Regions from separate parts of the Homo sapiens genome. Here region 2 is linked to region 1. Evidence: fine-mapped expression QTL. A gene starts in region 1. The other region holds a variant in brackets. All regions are shown on one strand. Distances are from middle to middle. Region 1 holds the start of NKX6-3 (NK6 homeobox 3). Region 2 overlaps GPAT4 (glycerol-3-phosphate acyltransferase 4).

Region 1 (8,322 bases):
CCCCACACACTCTGCCATGCACACAGGAGGAGAGCTGGACCTGAGGGCCACCGCAGCGGTGCACACATTCCTCTGGGCTGACGGCATGACCTCTGTAAGGGACTCCTGCTAGTCCCCTCTTGGCATGAATGACTGACTGTAGACGCATGACCTCCAGGCTTCAATCCTGCCTCTTGCAATGACAGCTGATCTGTCGGAACCAGGACACAAAAGCAGCAAGAAGCGGGGAGAGAGAGGGATAGAAAACAAGCGCAGGAGAGCCTGCGAACGCAAAAGTGAATGAGGGCTTTTTGTGGCTGGGGATGGGTTTTGGTTTTGGGGTTTTTTTTTTAAATTGTTTTGACTTCGTACAGGGTACTTTTTCCCAACCTCATCTGTCAGAAATCCATGTGGGCTTCCTGGAAAGAAAAAAAAAAAAAAGAAAACTAGGCATGAAATCAGTTTAACACCTTAATCTTAAGCCATGTCCTCATCTGCCCACCCTCCCCAACCCACATACCTCCATTCCACTTGTGACACCCCCTCGACTCCCTGGTGACGCTCCTCCCAGATCGCTCTACATGACATTCAGGACACACACACACACACACACACACCACTCGCCTCCACTGAATCTACACACAGATTTTACTGTGACTTCTGAAGCTGTATAGACTCTGCTGTGGATAAATTGGAATTTTTTATGTTGTCTCTCTCTCTGCCAATTTCAATACGAATCATCTTCCAATGGAAAATCATTACCTTGAAGAGTGCATTCGGGGTTCCTTGTGTTAGGGACTTAAGAATCTGAGGCGAGGACCCCCAGGCTTACCTGTAGGACTCAAAGGGAGCCAGGACCCCATCTGAAAGGGTCTCCTCTCTCAGTTGGGGGACAGGCCGGTGGCTGACCCAGGATTGCACCAGCATGTCCATAGAGAAGAGGTTTTCTATGTCTTCAAGCACTATATCATAGTCCGTGTTCAAAGTGTAAACTGTACAGTAATCAGCCTTGTGTATATGAAAAACAATAAATACTATGCAAACCAATAGAAACATTTAGCAGTACGTACAGAGCCTGACAGCGCAGCTCCTGAGGACTTCTGCGGCTGCAGGAGAAGGAGCTGTGGCCTGTCTTTCAGTGAAAGAGGAAGGAAAGGAGTAGGGCTAGTGAATGTATCTGCCAGGTCTTAGAAGTCAGGACCACCCAGGGTCTCCCAGAGTGAACTTGGTGCTCTAAGTCCAGGCAGCCTGCAGGCTGGGGACCCTGGGTGCAGGTGCCAGGCTCGAGGCTGTTCCCTGTCCTGCCTCAGTGCCTCCCCTCTGCCCAGCCCCTGTGGCCTCTTGGAGAGGCGAGCCAGGGGGCTCCCCGGACCGCATGGCCGGTGAGAGTAGAGTCGGAGGCGGAGAGCCTGGACGCCCAGAGGCCGGGGCCAGGCTCTGGGTCAAGGCAGGAAGGAGACAGACAGCTGGCAGTTCCTCGCCTCGGTGCCATCAGGGAGGAGCCTTAAGTTCCACTAGAGCCTCCGGCCCAGGGAGGCCAGAATCAGCACAATCCCGGCCCCGCCCTCGCGGCGGGCGCCCCCAGGGCCAGGAGAGAGAGACAGGGCTGGCTCCTCTCGCCCCTGGAGCCGCGGTGTGGACGGCCCGGCCCCGTCCGCCCCGCCGCTCTGCGGGAGTGTCCTCGGGACACACTTAAACCTTCCAAGTAGCACAGAAGCCCCCTCCACGTCAGAGGCCCCCTGGCCGCGGGGCCTGTGAGCGGAGAGGGGCCCTGCTTCCCACACAAATCCGCCCCGGTGCACCCCCGGCCAGGCAGGCCCCGGGGCGGCCTAGGCGCCTTGTCGGCCGGGGGTGGGGCTGCTTTTGCTTCCTTTAGAGGGGCGGGCAGGGAGAGGAAGCTCTAGCTCCGGGCCTGAGTTTCCCCGAGGCTGCGTCGGAGGAGCTGCAGGGCGAGCCCGGACGGCTGCCGTCTCCGCCAGAGGCCACCCCGGCCCGGCCTCCAGGGCGCAGAGGCGCCCCCCTCCATCCTCCCCCATCCCGGGGGCCACGGCAGGGGGGCCGCACAGCGCGGCTGGGACCGATTCGGTGACGGCCCAAGGAAGCTGGGCTCAGGGCTCGCCTCTCCCGCCTCGATCCTGCACCTTCCTCTCCCAGGTCGCTGCTGCAGCCAACCCAGTAGCCCCCTTAGCGCCCCCGCGGACCCCGCAGCTCCAGACTCCGCTTTGGCACCTCTGCTCCGGCTGGCATGGCTGCACGCTCCGGCTGCTAGTAGGAGCCGTTAGGGGAGGAGTTTGGGGTCTCCACACGATGCCTAGAGAATGCTGCAGTCTGCACATTAGACGCTTTTTAGAAGTTTTGAAATTACCTTGATTTTTTTAATTGTTATGAAAATGGATCTTTTCTTGACTCTCCCACATGCTCTGTTATGGGAGAGAATCCCCTACCCTACTCTGATGTATAGACCATTCTCCCTTCACCAGCCGAACCAATGTCAAAATTAATAAAGAAATGGACTAATGGCACAGGGCTCTATCTCTCCTTCCCGCTCGTCTTTGGGGGGTTAGGGGTGCTGAGGCCAGCGTAAAGCCTGGGTTGTGATGTGAAGGAGTCTATGGGTGGGGCTCAGGTCCCAGAGAGCCCGCCAATGCCCAGTCCTCCCAGAAGCCTGGACAACCCTTTAATCAGGACCACCCACCTGAGAGATGCCTCCAGAGAGGTGGCAGAGTAGCTTTCTGTTCCACCTGATGGCTCCCATGAGATGGGGAGAAGTTGGGGGTCTGGGGAGGGGCCACCACAACCCACCAGGGTTCTTGGCCAGGCCCCCAGCTGGCATGCACTGAGGGGGCCCCCCAGCATTCCCTAGGAAGGCATCTGGCCCCAGTACTCAATGCCATTCAAAGTTCAAGAACTTGTTCTTGCTGTAGGGAAAAAATTGCCCTATTCCTAACTAGTTGCTAACACTTCCTGCAAGGCTGGTCACCAAGCTGACCTCAGTTTCCTCATCTCTCTAATGGGAGAATGGATTAGGTGGTTGCTAAAGTCTCTTCAGTTTCTCATCCTAGGGGCGCCAGACACCAACGCCTTTGTCAGGCTTGGCATTAATTAAGAATCAAATCATTGGCTGCGGCTTTCCTGCCACATAAATTCCCATCATGAGGGGATGACGGAGTCACAATCCCAAGGCCCCTGGAGCACCCCAGCCCCACCCCACTCCCAGCCTCTCTCCTGGAATCGGACAGGCCGTTCAGGCCAGTGGGCAACCGCAGCAGGTCATCTGCAGCACCCATGGGGCTTTTAAAAATGCAGTTTCAGAATCACAGTTGCCTGGGGGGAATTGGGTGGTGACACCGGGAACCAGAACCAGGTCTACCAGATGGCTGTGGCACGCGACCTGGTGGCAAAGCCATCTCAGACGAAGACGTAGCTCTTTTCTCTTTAAACCAAATTTGTAGGGAATCATTCCACACCCTTTGTGAGATCTTTCTTGCATAACCTAAATCCCTGTGCTACAGAGGGTCAACTTCTGCATGAGAAGGAATCCTGCCCTGAGCCTTGGGTCCTCTGCTCCCCACTGAAAACCAAGACGGCCTGGAAACCCAGGAGAAGCTCAGTGAAGCAGTGCCTCTAGTCTCCCACCTACCAGGGCGGCCTCTGGGGAGTGAGAGAGCAAGCCCTGCAGAGCCCACGCCTGGTCAGGAAGGGCTCTGGGGCCACCAGGCACAGAGAGGAGCAGAAGTCCATCTGTCTGGCAGTCACAGTCTTTCCTAGCATTTTACATGTTCAGGCCAGTGGCATGCTAGTTTCCAGTTTTAGAGAAAAACTGCAGGGAAGAATCCTGCCTGGTCCAGAAATCACCCATGTACCTGGAAAGTGGGCTCCAATTCCTCTATACCTTGGTTTTCCTGTTTGTAAAATGAGAGCTTCCCCCAATAGAGCCTTGTATGTTGTAAAAATTTATTCGAGAAAAAAAAAAGCATATGCATGTTCTGTGATTCAGCCCAGTCCACTGCATCAACTACTAACTGAGCACCGACGGAGTGCCCGGCACGGGGCTCCACCACCCTCTCAGCCATCAGGGATTTCAAACCCGGGCACCACGCCAGACAGAGCATGGCCATTGCTCCAGCAGAGGCACAAATGAGGAAGAGATTCTGATAGGGAGGTCACGGAAGGCCGACCAGAGGTGGAGGCAAGAACATGCGTGCAGGGCGGCCCTCTCTTCAGCCTCCTGCAGTTGGAGGACTCACACCCCGGCACTGTCAGGGCTGCCTACGCCCCGCGCTGCCCTCTTCCCAGCAGGCTCCCACCCTAGGCTCTCAAGCCAGCCACAGGGACTTGCATCCCCCAGAAAGCAATGCCACTCAGCCTCTTACCCCATCCCCGCACTTACCCCCATCTTATGCCACTTACCCCATCCCCGCATGCGGAAGGGAAGGAAGCGGCTGCGTTCTCCTGTGGAGCTTGGACATGTGCACATAAAGGGGCCGGCGCAGCTCCGGACAGTGGCCTCTGAGTCCAGCCTCCTCTTCCCTAGGGGAGCAGCTGTAGGAACAGTGACTTCCAATTGCCTTGGGAGCCTCCAGGGGCCCCCAGACGCTCACCTTTTCCTAGATGCTAGACTTGCGGGGAGCAAATGGACCCTCCGGCGATGAGTAGGGCTTCTAGAGCTAATTCTCTGTCTCTCTCTCGCGCGCGCGCGCATACACACACACACACACGCGCGCGCGCGCGCGCGCGCGCACACACACACACACACACCCTGGCTGATTGTACAGTCAATCTTTCAAAGTGCAATTTGTCTAGGAAAAGCCAATGTGAGGCCCGTGTGCGCCCCGACCAATGGCGGCGCGGCTCCGGCGGCTCAGCCAGTCTCCGGCCTGTATTCTAATGGGCCGTATCTTTATCAGGGAAATGTTCCTTCTCTGAACTTAAAACTTCTCATGGAGGGTCCCCCGACTCAGAGGCAGAAAGGGGGTCTGAGCTGAGGCTTAGGGGGCCACCCTGTCCGGCCAGGGCAAGGAGAGAGGCCAGGAGCCCTGGGGAGGCCTCCCACCTGCCCCGAGCACCTGACTTCCGAGCAGCTGATCGGGTGCCGGTTCCTGGGCCAGGGCCTGGCCCATGCCTTAGGTGGGAGGCAGTCAGGAGCTCGGAGACGGTCCTAAGCCTCCAGGCCTGCCATGAGATTTGGGGCTAGAGAGTGGGCTCTTGGGTTTTAGGGGCCTGGAGAAGCCTTCCCTGTCCTGACTGGGAGATCATGGAGTCCAACCTGCAGGGGACGTTCCTGCTGAACAACACGCCGCTGGCTCAGTTTCCGGAGATGAAGGCCCCGGTGTGCCAGTACTCTGTGCAGAACTCCTTCTACAAGCTCAGCCCCCCAGGGCTGGGCCCCCAGCTGGCCGCCGGAACCCCCCACGGGATCACGGACATCCTGAGCAGGCCCGTGGCTGCGCCGAACAACAGCCTCCTCTCCGGCTACCCCCACGTGGCAGGCTTTGGGGGGCTCAGCTCGCAGGGGGTCTACTACAGCCCCCAGGTAGGGAATTTTTCCAAGGCTGGGAACGAGTACCCGACCCGGACCCGGAACTGCTGGGCGGACACGGGCCAAGACTGGCGAGGCGGGCGGCAGTGCAGCAACAGTGAGTACGGGTCCTCCCCAGCCACCTCCCGGCACCCGCCAGGCCCCGGGGGGCAGAGGACGAGGAGGGGCCTCCTCCCGGGCACCCTGCACCTCCGCCCTCTCCCCCAGTCGCCATTAACCCCTGGACTCGTAGCCTCAGCTCAGTGCAGGCTGAGTTCCACCCTCTCCTCCTTCCCATCCAGCAGTGCTTGGACACAGGTGTCTGAGCCACCCCCCTCACATGCCAGCCACCTCAGCTGCCCTCCTAGGGCCCCCGGCAGTTCCAGATGTAGAGAAGGCCCCACAGCCCACGCCTGCCCTGCACGAGGTCCAGTAGGCAGCCCAGCTGGCTTCTGCAGCCCAGGGCCCATGCAACCACTTCTTCACCCAAAGCAGGCAAATGCTACCCCCGTGAGGAAAATGTCCTAGCTCACCTTCCCAGAGAGCCCTGGCATCACTCAAGGGTGCAGAACGCACCCTGACCCCATCCGGGTCCAGCCTTTGAGCCAGGGGGCTGTTGCCCACCACATCCTCGGGTTTCTAGCAACAGCAGCCACACCAAGTAGCCTGTCTCGGGGAGTTGCTGCTGAGTCCAGCTGAACTTGGCCTTGGCTGTGGGGAAGCAGGGGGCCTCTTCTCAGCCGACCCATCCCTCAGCCAAGGTTTTCAGAGGGTGGGCCCGTGATGCCAGTCAGGGTTACTGGAGGAGGTGGCAGGGCAGGTGAGGCTCTGCTGGGAGGCAGGGAGGTGAGAGTTTTTGGAATCTTCTCCGTGCCACCGAAGCCCTGCCCACGTCAGGCAGGGGCCTCCATTTCTGTCTGATCTCCGGGCTCTCCTACGCCAATGGGGGCTTGGGGCCAACCTAGGGAACCCCAAAAGCACACCTGTCCCCCCATTTGCTACTCTGCCTTGCCGGTCACAGTGCCTGACAGCCACCCCTCCATGGGCTGCCACCCATCGCTGTGCCCCTGGGGGTGAAGGCCTCCTCTCTCAGATCCTGTTTTAGGCTTGGCTTCAGGGGTGCTTTAAGCCTCAGCTGACTCTCTCTTCCCTCCATCTCCCCCTCCCCTCTCCACATCCCACACACCACCTCTTCAGTCCTGAATGCAGGTACACACACAGGGACATAGCCAAGAAAGTCAGTGGCTAATGAAGGCAAAGGCAGAGAGACTTGAACATGATCTCTCAGGAGGGCTCTTCCTCTCTCTGTGCCTCAGTTTCCTCACCTGTAACTTGAGCTGTCAGACTGCACAGAACGAGGCCTGACATGTGGGAACCACTGCCCACAGCTCCTTCCCGAGCCTGCTGCCCTGGCCAGGCTGGGGGTCAGGGTCTCTGGCCTCTGTGCCAGGCTCTCCAGGGTGGTTGAAGCCACATAACTTCCAGGCCTGGTGACATGGGGAAGTGGCAGCTTGGGGCGTCAGGTTTGCCCCTCCCTGGTTTCCTGGAGACCTGGGAAGTTGAGTCTCAAGAGCAAGGAAGTTGGCGGAAGCCGGGGGTGGAGGGAATTCACAGGCCCTGGTCCCTAATTATAGGAGGAGGGTGACCTGAAGGGACATCCCTGGGACAGAGAGGGAACTCCTGTTGCCCCTCAGGGGAAGGCAACATCAGCGAGTATTGAGAACTTTAGACAGAGAGGCATGAGGCTCTGCTGCCCCTAAGTCCCATTACACTAGGGCAGCTGCCCTCTCGGAGCCCTGCCCATCCAGGCGGGGCAGAGGTCACAGTCACTGTTCCCCAATATCAAGAATGCTGCTCAGGGGAAAGGAATCTTGGTGTCCTGGAAACCTCTGCAGGAGGGAGAGGGGCAGGCATGGTGGTTGCCCTGCCAGACGTGCCTAGCCGCAGGGTCCCCACTTATTCTACTAACCCCACACTTCCTTCCTCCTGCCAGCCCCAGACCCCCTGAGTGACAGCATACACAAGAAGAAGCACACCCGGCCCACCTTCACGGGGCACCAGATCTTTGCCCTGGAGAAAACCTTTGAGCAGACCAAGTACTTGGCTGGCCCCGAGAGGGCACGGCTGGCATACTCACTGGGCATGACCGAGTCGCAGGTCAAGGTAAGTCTGTGCGGGAGATGGCACCTGCCCTGCAGGGAGGAGCCTGCCGGACAGGAGGCCACTGCGTTGGAGAGAGGTGGCCACACAACGCAGCCCCCCAGAGGGCAGCTGTCCTGGTGTCTGGGCACTGCCTGCCTGCCTAACCCTGGAGCCTGTGGTAATTAACCATAGCCGGGAAAGGCTGAGCCCCATTCTCAGAGCCTTATGTGCGGCACCTCATTTCATCCTCTCAGCAACCCGGGGGGTCGGTATCATCACCCATTTCGCAGATGAAGATCAGTGTCTCCCGGCTGGGAGAGCTGGGAGAGCTGGCAGAGCTGGGGTTCAACCCCAGATGTGGGGGACTCCAACCTGAGGCTTTCCCTCTCCCCCCGTATTTGGCCAAAAATTCCAAGCACGGTCGGCAGTCTCTGGCCCAGATTCATGCTTGATGCTCCAGTCAGCAAAAGGAGCTGACCTCAGTTTACCAATCCTTAAGATGAAGACAACGTCTCCTTCTACTAAGCAGGATCAGATGGGCTTCAGGGGCCTGGAGCCTTGTCGCCCACGCCAGGGCTAGGGAGGGTGAGCCCAGGCTCTCCCACTCCACACGCAGGGGCCCCAAATGCCCCCTAAATAGACCCGGGGAAACCGGTTTCTACCGCCTTAGAGTCTGGGGGCAA
Region 2 (8,322 bases), 28 kb after region 1:
CCATTCCTTTCCCAGTTTAATGTATTTGACTCCTGCATAGGAAGTAACCTCATGGAGTACGAGAAAGCCTGAGATGGTTCTTCAGCCTCCCCAGCAAAGTGCTCCTAACAGTGCAGTGGGATGGGTGTGGGCACAGGAAGTGAGGTGTCGGGGAGCCAGCGCAGGCTAGAGGGAAGCCCCCAGTGAAGCGTTTCAGAAGTGTCCTGCTTAACCCTGAAAGTGGACTTGAAGTCTCTATGTGTAAAATGCCAGGTGCTCCTACAGTTCCCCGTGTGCTGGGAATCCACAACCATGGTGTCCTCCGGCTTCGCTGGCCAGCCTGGCACATTCCTGGGGGCGGGGCTGGAAGTCCTTGGAAGAGAAACTAGGTCCTTGACCAGCCTCCTGCACATGGGCACAGCCTGGACCACACTCCTGAAAACCACTCTACTAGCATTTGCCTGCTCTGCGGGACATTCATACCTGTTTGTTTTCTGCCGTCCAGCTTCCTAACCGCCTTCAAGGTCCCCTGAGACCAGGAGAGAGAAGGAAATCCTAACAACCCCAGAGAAGGCCTGCAGTAGGTTGGAGCGCACTAGGGCCTGCAGCCACACTTCTTACTGAGAGTCCTGCTGTCAAAAGCCCTTGTGTGTTCCTACCTGCCACACTAAGCATGAATGGGAAGTCCGCAGCAGCAGCCTGGACGAGGGAGGGTCAAGAAGAAGGTGTTCCAACTATTTGCTTTAATAAAAACGTTTACTAGAAACACTAGAAAGTGTTTTCCCCCTCCCGCTCCCCCTCTCCCTCTCCCTCTCCCTCTCCCCACGGTCTCCCTCTCCCTCTCTTTCTACGGTCTCCCTCTGATGCCGAGCCAAAGCTGGACTGTACTGCTGCCATCTCGGCTCACTGCAACCTCCCTGCCTGATTCTCCTGCCTCAGCCTGCCGAGTGCCTGCGATTGCAGGCACGCACCACCACACCTGACTGGTTTTCGTATTTTTTTGGTGGAGACGGGATTTCGCTGTGTTGGCCGGGCCGGTCTCCAGCTCCTAACCGCGAGTGATCCGCCAGCCTCGGCCTCCCGAGGTGCCGGGATTGCAGACGGAGTCTCGTTCACTCAGTGCTCAATGGTGCCCAGGCTGGAGTGCAGTGGCGTGATCTCGGCTCGCTACAACCTCCACCTCCCAGCCGCCTGCCTTGGCCTCCCAAAGTGCCGAGATTGCAGCCTCTGCCCGGCTGCCAACCCGTCTGGGAAGTGAGGAGCGTCTCTGCCTGGCTGCCCATCGTCTGGGATGTGAGGAGCCCCTCTGCCTGGCTGCCCAGTCTGGAAAGTGAGGAGCGTCTCTGCCCAGCCGCCATCCCATCTAGGAAGTGAGGAGCACCTCTTCCCGGCCGCCATCACATCTAGGAAGTGAGGAGCGTCTCTGCCCGGCCGCCCATCGTCTGAGATGTGGGGAGTGCCTCTGCCCCACCGCCCCGTCTGGGATGTGAGGAGCGCCTCTGCCCGGCCGCGACCCCGTCTGGGAGGTGAGGAGCGTCTCTGCCCGGCCGCCCCGTCTGAGAAGTGAGGAGACCCTCTGCCTGGCAACCGCCCCGTCTGAGAAGTGAGGAGCCCCTCCGCCCGGCAGCCACCCCGTCCGGGAGGGAGGTTGGGGGGGGGGTCAGCCCCCCGCCCGGCCAGCCGCCCCGTCCGGGAGGGAGGTTGGGGGGGGTCAGCCCCCCGCCCGGCCAGCCGCCCCGTCCGGGAGGGAGGTGGGGGGGTCAGCCCCCCGCCCGGCCAGCCGCCCCGTCCAGGAGGTGAGGGGCGCCTCTGCCTGGCCGCCCCTACTGGGAAGTGAGGAGCCCCTCTGCCCGGCCACCACCCCGTCTGGGAGGTGTACCCAACAGCTCATTGAGAACGGGCCAGGATGACAATGGCGGTTTTGTGGAATAGAAAGGGGGGAAAGGTGGGGAAAAGATTGAGAAATCGGATGGTTGCCGTGTCTGTGTAGAAAGAAGTAGACATGGGAGACTTTTCATTTTGTTCTGTACTAAGAAAAATTCTTCTGCCTTGGGATCCTGTTGATCTGTGACCTTACCCCCAACCCTGTGCTCCCTGAAACATGTGCTGTGTCCACTCAGGGTTAAATGGATTAAGGGCAGTGCAAGATGTGCTTTGTTAAACAGATGCTCGAAGGCAGCATGCTCATTAAGAGTCATCACCACTCCCTAATCTCAAGTACCCAGGGACACAAACACTGCGGAAGGCCGCAGGGTCCTCTGCCTAGGAAAACCAGAGACCTTCGTTCACTTGTTTATCTGCTGACCTTCCCTCCACTATTGTCCTATGACCCTGCCAAATCCCCCTCTGCAAGAAACACCCAAGAATGATCAATAAAAAAAAAAGTGTTTTCCCTTTCCTACAACTTCCCCTGGGTAAGAATTCTGGTTGTATCGTCAGTGGTTGGGTTGATCTATGTAAGACCATCTGTTTGGGGCCATATTTGTCTCGATAAAGTGCCAAACTCTTTACAGCAAACTCTATGCCAATGAAAATCTCACAAAAAGGCATTTCCAGTCTTCAGCTATTGGCCCACACTGTAAGAAATAATCCACACAGCCCGATTGCTGCAAAAGACTGTCTCCTGCCACATCTTCCTGCCACAGGTGACTCTGGTGGCGATTTGGCCAGGAAGGAAGCTAAAGGGTCCTGCCACACGAGCTTCTCTTGTTGATGACAGATGTCTGCTGACAAAGGGTGCCTGCCCCAGGGTGCATCCCCAGCTGGGAGAGGGCCGGTACGTGCCATCTCAGAACGCAGCCCAGCAGAGGCATCCAGCCCTGGCACCTGGGCACTCTTGGAGGCCAACACAAAGTTCTCAACTCGGCGCCCTCCAGCCTGCAGCTGATCCCTGCAGAGTAAGCCTCAGGCTGACGGAGATAAAGTTTGCCTGGGCCCAAGTTCCAAACTCGGCCGTTTTGTTTCTGTTAAAATGCAATTGTTTTTCTCTGGAGTGTGTGGTGACTGCTCCGCGTCAGGAAGATGTATGAAAACCTCCACTTCAATTCGGCATCCCTTTTCTCCCAGACAAACACGGTCGGATTTTAATAAATCAAAGAGCCACACTGTTTAATAAAAATTTATTGACTTACAAGTGATTATTTATCAAAAGACCATTAATAGCAGGTACTGAAATGATGTGTTACTGGGTGGTGCTGGGAGACTAATAGGAAATCAATGCAGCTGGCCGGCCAGAATGCATATGAGAAGCCCACCCCCCGGCAGCCAGCGCAATCACCCCCGCAACACACGCCAGGTGCCACCCCTGGCGCAATGAAAAGTTCCCCCTTTTTATTTATCGTTTACAAATGAAATGATCAATACTTTTAATCTAGAGCAAAATTTATTAACTTTCCCATCGGAGAGAGACATATTGACTGGGGGAGAGAGTGGGGTGTGCGTGCTGTAGAAGATGGATGGCTGCGTGGCCATATCCTAACCTGTCCGCGAGGCAGTGCACCTGCAGCTGCCCTTCCAGCCTACGGACCGGGCCACCTGGGACAAGTGCACCTGGAGAAGCCGAGTCTGGCCACCCGGGATGCACAGCAGGCAGGTGGGACCTATGACATGGGGGGATCCTTCATGCATCAGGGGACACTAGCAAGCAATAGCCCAGAAAATCAAGTTCCTGGCCAATTCCAGGAAGGAAATGGCAGGATTCAGAGACCCAGATTTCCACAGGACAACAGGGTTAGTGCCCACTGTTTGCTGTGCCGTGAAGGTCACACGATGGCACCCAAAAATGCCTGTCACTGGTCTGGGAAGGGCATTTCAGGGATCTGGAGCACTCCCCCTGACCCCTCACACATCAAGCCTCTTCTCTGAAAGGCAGCACCAGGGACGGATTCTGACACGGTGAAGCATCAAGTCCCAAGGCTGGTTCTGCTGTCAAGGGAATCCCACTAGCTTTATTAAAAAGTTCCCTCTTGGCTGGGCGCAGTGGCTCACGCCTGTAATCCCAGAACTTTGGGAGGCCAAGGAGAGTGGATCACCTGAGGTCAGGAGTTGGAGACCAGCCTGACCAACATGGTGAAACCCAGTCTCTACTAAATACAAAAAATTAGCTGGGTGTGGTGGTGCATGCCTGTAATCTCAGCTACTTGGAGGCTGAGGCAGAAGAATCACTTGAACCCGGGAGGTAGAGGTTGCAGTGGAGCTGAGATTGTGCCATTGCACTCCAGCATGGGCAACAAGAGTGAAACTCCGTGTTTAAAAAAAAAAAAAAAGTTCCCTAACTGGTGGGTGGAAAGTCTCATGTTTGAGTAAAAAAGGCTGTCTGAGAACCACAATGAAGATACTGCCCAGCCTGAGAGCAGTATGGCCCCAGCCCCATGGCTGCCTAAAGCCCTTGAGGTCACCCTCAAGTGGGTTAGTTCCACTAGCCCTGATGTTTTAGAGAAGCAATGGATTCAAAGCTGACTTCCCGTATTTCCAAACCCAGAAGACTTCAGAGATCAAAGCCAAAGTTTGAACTATGGGCTTAAAAACAGAGAATTCAGAGGTGGACGAGGTCTCTGAGGTCATCTAGCCAAGTCCCTAGTTATGACTCAGGAGACGGATGCAGAGAAGTGAAGGTGCAGCAGGCTTGGAGGGGGGTTAGCAGCTGACCAGCACTTTCCACTCATTACACCACTGGGTGTCATTCCCAGCTCAGCCCCACCCTTGCTGGGGTAACAGGAGGGAACACATTATTTTGTACTTTGCATGTTTCTAAGTGTCTTGAGTTTTTGCCCCATAAGACCAACTCGGTTACCCCAAACCAGATACTCTGACTATGGGTCACTTGGGGCTTGCAGGACCCCTAATTTAAAAGGATGGAGCAGTCGCCTGGATGATGGTAAAAGGCATACACGGAAAGGGGAGGTTACGTTTCTGCAGGCGTGAATCAGTGCTCTCCTCACTGCCCGGCCCGCACAGGACTTCCCTCCACAGCACTGACTCCACGTGACTTCACACCAGGTGCGGCCACACCTGCCGGCAGGGGCCGCAGACAGCTGTGCTGAATGTGAGACAAAAGCAAAACCTGTGTGTGTGTGTATATATAAATACCTATGCAAATCACGAAAGTAACAAA[C/T]CATAAAGTTTCAGATGAACTTTTTAAAAGAGAACCTGATCTTTTAAGACCAATTACTGATCCCTCCAGTTGGTTTACAAACACTGTAAACATCACCTATAAAAGCTGAAAATCACTTTTTATTCTTAAGCATTTTGTAAAACAGTTCCTAAGAGACTTATTAGTCATAACACTGACTTTATTTTTTCAGTCTTCATTTGAGAGCAAAAAGATTTCCCCCGGGCTGGCAACAGGGCAGGTGAGGAAATGGGAGGCTCTCCCAGGGAGGTCACAGGTAGGTGCAGAGAAAAGGAGATTGCAGGGCCAACCCAGCAGGTACCACATGCAAAGTGGATCTGTCTGCAGCCCCAGGAGCACAGCTTCACTCCCACCCACTCCCTGAACTGCAGGCCAGAGGGCGACCTTGGGGACGTGACACTCAGCACCACAGGCACAAAATCCTGAGAGGCATCATGACTGTGCCACGAGGGAGCATGGGTCCCAAGTGAGGGCTGGTGGGGCATGAATGGGGAGCTGAGGAGCATGAAACTGGTGAAACCCCAGAACCCACAGGGGCTGCTTGGCCTTGGCTCTGCCTCCACTGTGACTGTACAGCAGGCACCAGTGGCCGACTCTTTTCCTGTGGTGCCTGCTCTGGCTGTGCAGAAGCTGCCATGCAGCACATGCCCTGCCCACCCTGCCCCTCTGCAGCCCTCCCCTGTCCCTCCCCTGCAGAAGCCACCATGCAGCACAGGCCCTGCCCCGCCCCGGCCCCTCTGCAGCCCTCCCCGGGCCCTTGCTCCTCCCCCACCCTGGAGTTTACTCATTGCTTCCCCTAGGCCTCACATCAGCGACCCGCACACACCCCGTCTCTGGAGAAATCCACGTCTGTGCTGGAAATTCTAAATTAACCAAAGATCTGCAAGCATCTGAGACGAGCTGTTCACCTTCTGAGCTGCAGGGTTCCTCGCTCCAGCAGTCAGTTGGCTTCTCCGCAGCCCCAGGGCCATGCTCCCAGAAGAGAACGGGAATCCTCACGAGAAGCCTGCTACTCAGGGCCACAGCCAGGGGAGAAAGTAAAGGGAGAAGTCCCCCAGTTCATTCACCAGCCAGTTTTATTTACTCACAAGAACAAATCCAAAGCCCAGTGCAGCAGCTCTGAGCTCAGGCCTGCCGTGCCCCGTTTTGTGGGCCTGTACTTGAAACACTGAACGTGATGTGTCCTTCACTCACCCGCAGCACTTTAATCCCCACAACAGCCCTGTGAGGTAGGAATCACCACCATTCCCCCCGACTCATATTACAGATGGGGAAACCGAGACACACATTCAACAAAGCGCGCATCACATGGGGAGTTCAGGGTTAGCCTGGAGTACGAACACACGTTCTCCCCATGGCCCAGTCAGCGGCCCACCTGGCCTCTTCCCCTCCCTTTAGTAACCCCATCAGCAGCAGCATAAAAATCTAACCCTTCATTTTGCTGAAAGCCCCTGCAGATGACAGTTTCCTTCCTATCATGTCTGCAGAGCTCCAAGGCTGGGGGCGATGTTGAGGCCGAAGCCAGCCACAGTGCCTCAGCTGTGCCTTTCCTGGAGAGCGGGTGGCCGCCCCCAGCACATCCCTGGCACACGGGCTTGCATAACAGACTCTTGTACCGCCATCTCTAGCACAAGACCATGGCCACATCTCCCCAACCACTCAGCCCGCACAGCGTGCAAAGGTGGGGAGTTCACTTTAATGGCATTCCTCCAACGACTTATTGTAAAAGAAACAAGGCATCTCGTCCTGGGTCGCAACACCCAGCAGCATCCGTTTAGACCACCAAGGGTAGGCTGCGCCGGGTGCACAGGGATCCCGCTGCGGCTCGGCGAAAGCCGGAGTCCTGGGATCCAGAGCAGCCCGGGGAGCCCTGGAGTCTGGAAAGGACACAGCAGTGGGGGCGGCGGCGGCAACTCCAGCTCTGAGCCCGTTGGCACCCCGCACGGTGGCCCCAGCCAGCTGGAGGCAGGCTCAGGAGCGGCTCCTGTCCTTGTGGTTCCCCACGATCATCTTGCTGTACAGCTTCTGCTGCTCCTCCTTGAACGTGTCCTTCACCTTCTCCCTCTTCAGGCCCCCATCCCTGGAGAGACAAAGGCTGGATGTAGTAACAGCCAAGAGGGCTCCCAGCCACGCTCACACCATGGGAGATGCACCATGCTGCCCAAACACCAAGAAAAACCTGCCAGAAACAGGGTACCCCGTGGCACTCTCACCAAGACAACCTCAGGGGATTTGGGGCTCCGGGATCCCAATATCCACCCTTTCTATCTCAAAAGGTCTACCCTTGCCCTTGGGTGAGAATTTACTACTCACATTCAAGGTACTTGATAACTGCTTAAACCTACCAAGGAGTTTACAATTCTTTCTACTCTAACATTCATCTTCACCTCACAAAGGAAAAGGAGGAATTCTGGCATTATGGAAGGTAGACATGCTTTAAGAAATATCGACTCATAACGTATCTGTAAAATCTATCTGTAAAATGTCATTTGTTTAATTCAGACCCAGGGATACTCTGAACTCATGCAGAGAGCTAACACAAGGGGTAACGCGTGTTCTGACTTCTTCCATGCTCAAAAAAAGAGTGCCGTCAGGAATGGAGGTTTACCTCCGGGGCTGCCTCTCAGAGTTCCAGCCTCACTGCCCCCGTGCCTCCCTGCAGCAGCCCCAAACCAACCCACCAGACTTGGGATTGTTTCATTACAGTCCCATTGCCTCTTGCCTGCTGGCCCCCTCCGTGCCTACACTCTAGAATTATCACCACCTTCAACAACTTATAAAAATCCAAGCCCGCTTTCAGTCTCTCCGCTACACCCTTTAAAATCCATAGCAAAGGCATAGATTTTAAAAGCAGCCACTCTGTCTTTGTTAAACTTCAGAGATGGGAACATGGGGCAGAAGTTAAACCTTCAAGCTCTAAAAGTCTGTGAGATGTGGGTTCAAAATCTAGCTCCAGTGCTAATGTTATGACTTTGGAAAAAAGTGATTTGAGTCTCAGTTTCTCATCTGCAAAATGGGAACACTGTTTACAGCGCTGCGGCTACTGTGAGGGCGAAAGAGACGATCACACAGGGCCCCAGCAGCTCAGTGACTGGCACACAGTGAGTGCACAATCCACACTAGCATTTTTTAAAAGGCCATCATCTGAGAGCCAATCTATTCCCTGAGACTCTACAGTTGGGTTTACAATGTGAATTTCTACCCTTTCTTTT

Evidence for each region.
Region 2: its variant is fine-mapped to the expression of NKX6-3 in whole blood (TOPMed, PIP 0.91).

The regions. Positions count from the first base shown.
Region 1 is chr8:41,647,404-41,655,725 of GRCh38, reverse strand. It overlaps NKX6-3 (NK6 homeobox 3), which reads left to right and starts at 4,909. Exons shown (of 3, transcript NM_001364841.2): 1 at 4,909-5,615; 2 at 7,491-7,660. The coding sequence starts at 5,234. It overlaps ANK1 (ankyrin 1), which reads left to right. Exons shown (of 43, transcript NM_000037.4): 43 at 1-2,501. RefSeq lists silencers at 1,572-1,911, 1,932-2,001, 2,022-2,071 and an enhancer at 1,599-2,392.
Region 2 is chr8:41,619,761-41,628,082 of GRCh38, reverse strand. GPAT4 (glycerol-3-phosphate acyltransferase 4) reads right to left here. Exons shown (of 13, transcript NM_178819.4): 13 at 3,082-7,190. The coding sequence ends at 7,082. Among named protein-coding and RNA genes, the nearest start is that of NKX6-3, 27 kb to the left of the region's middle. RefSeq lists an enhancer at 4,983-5,082. The variant C/T (reference allele first, on the strand shown) is at 5,093.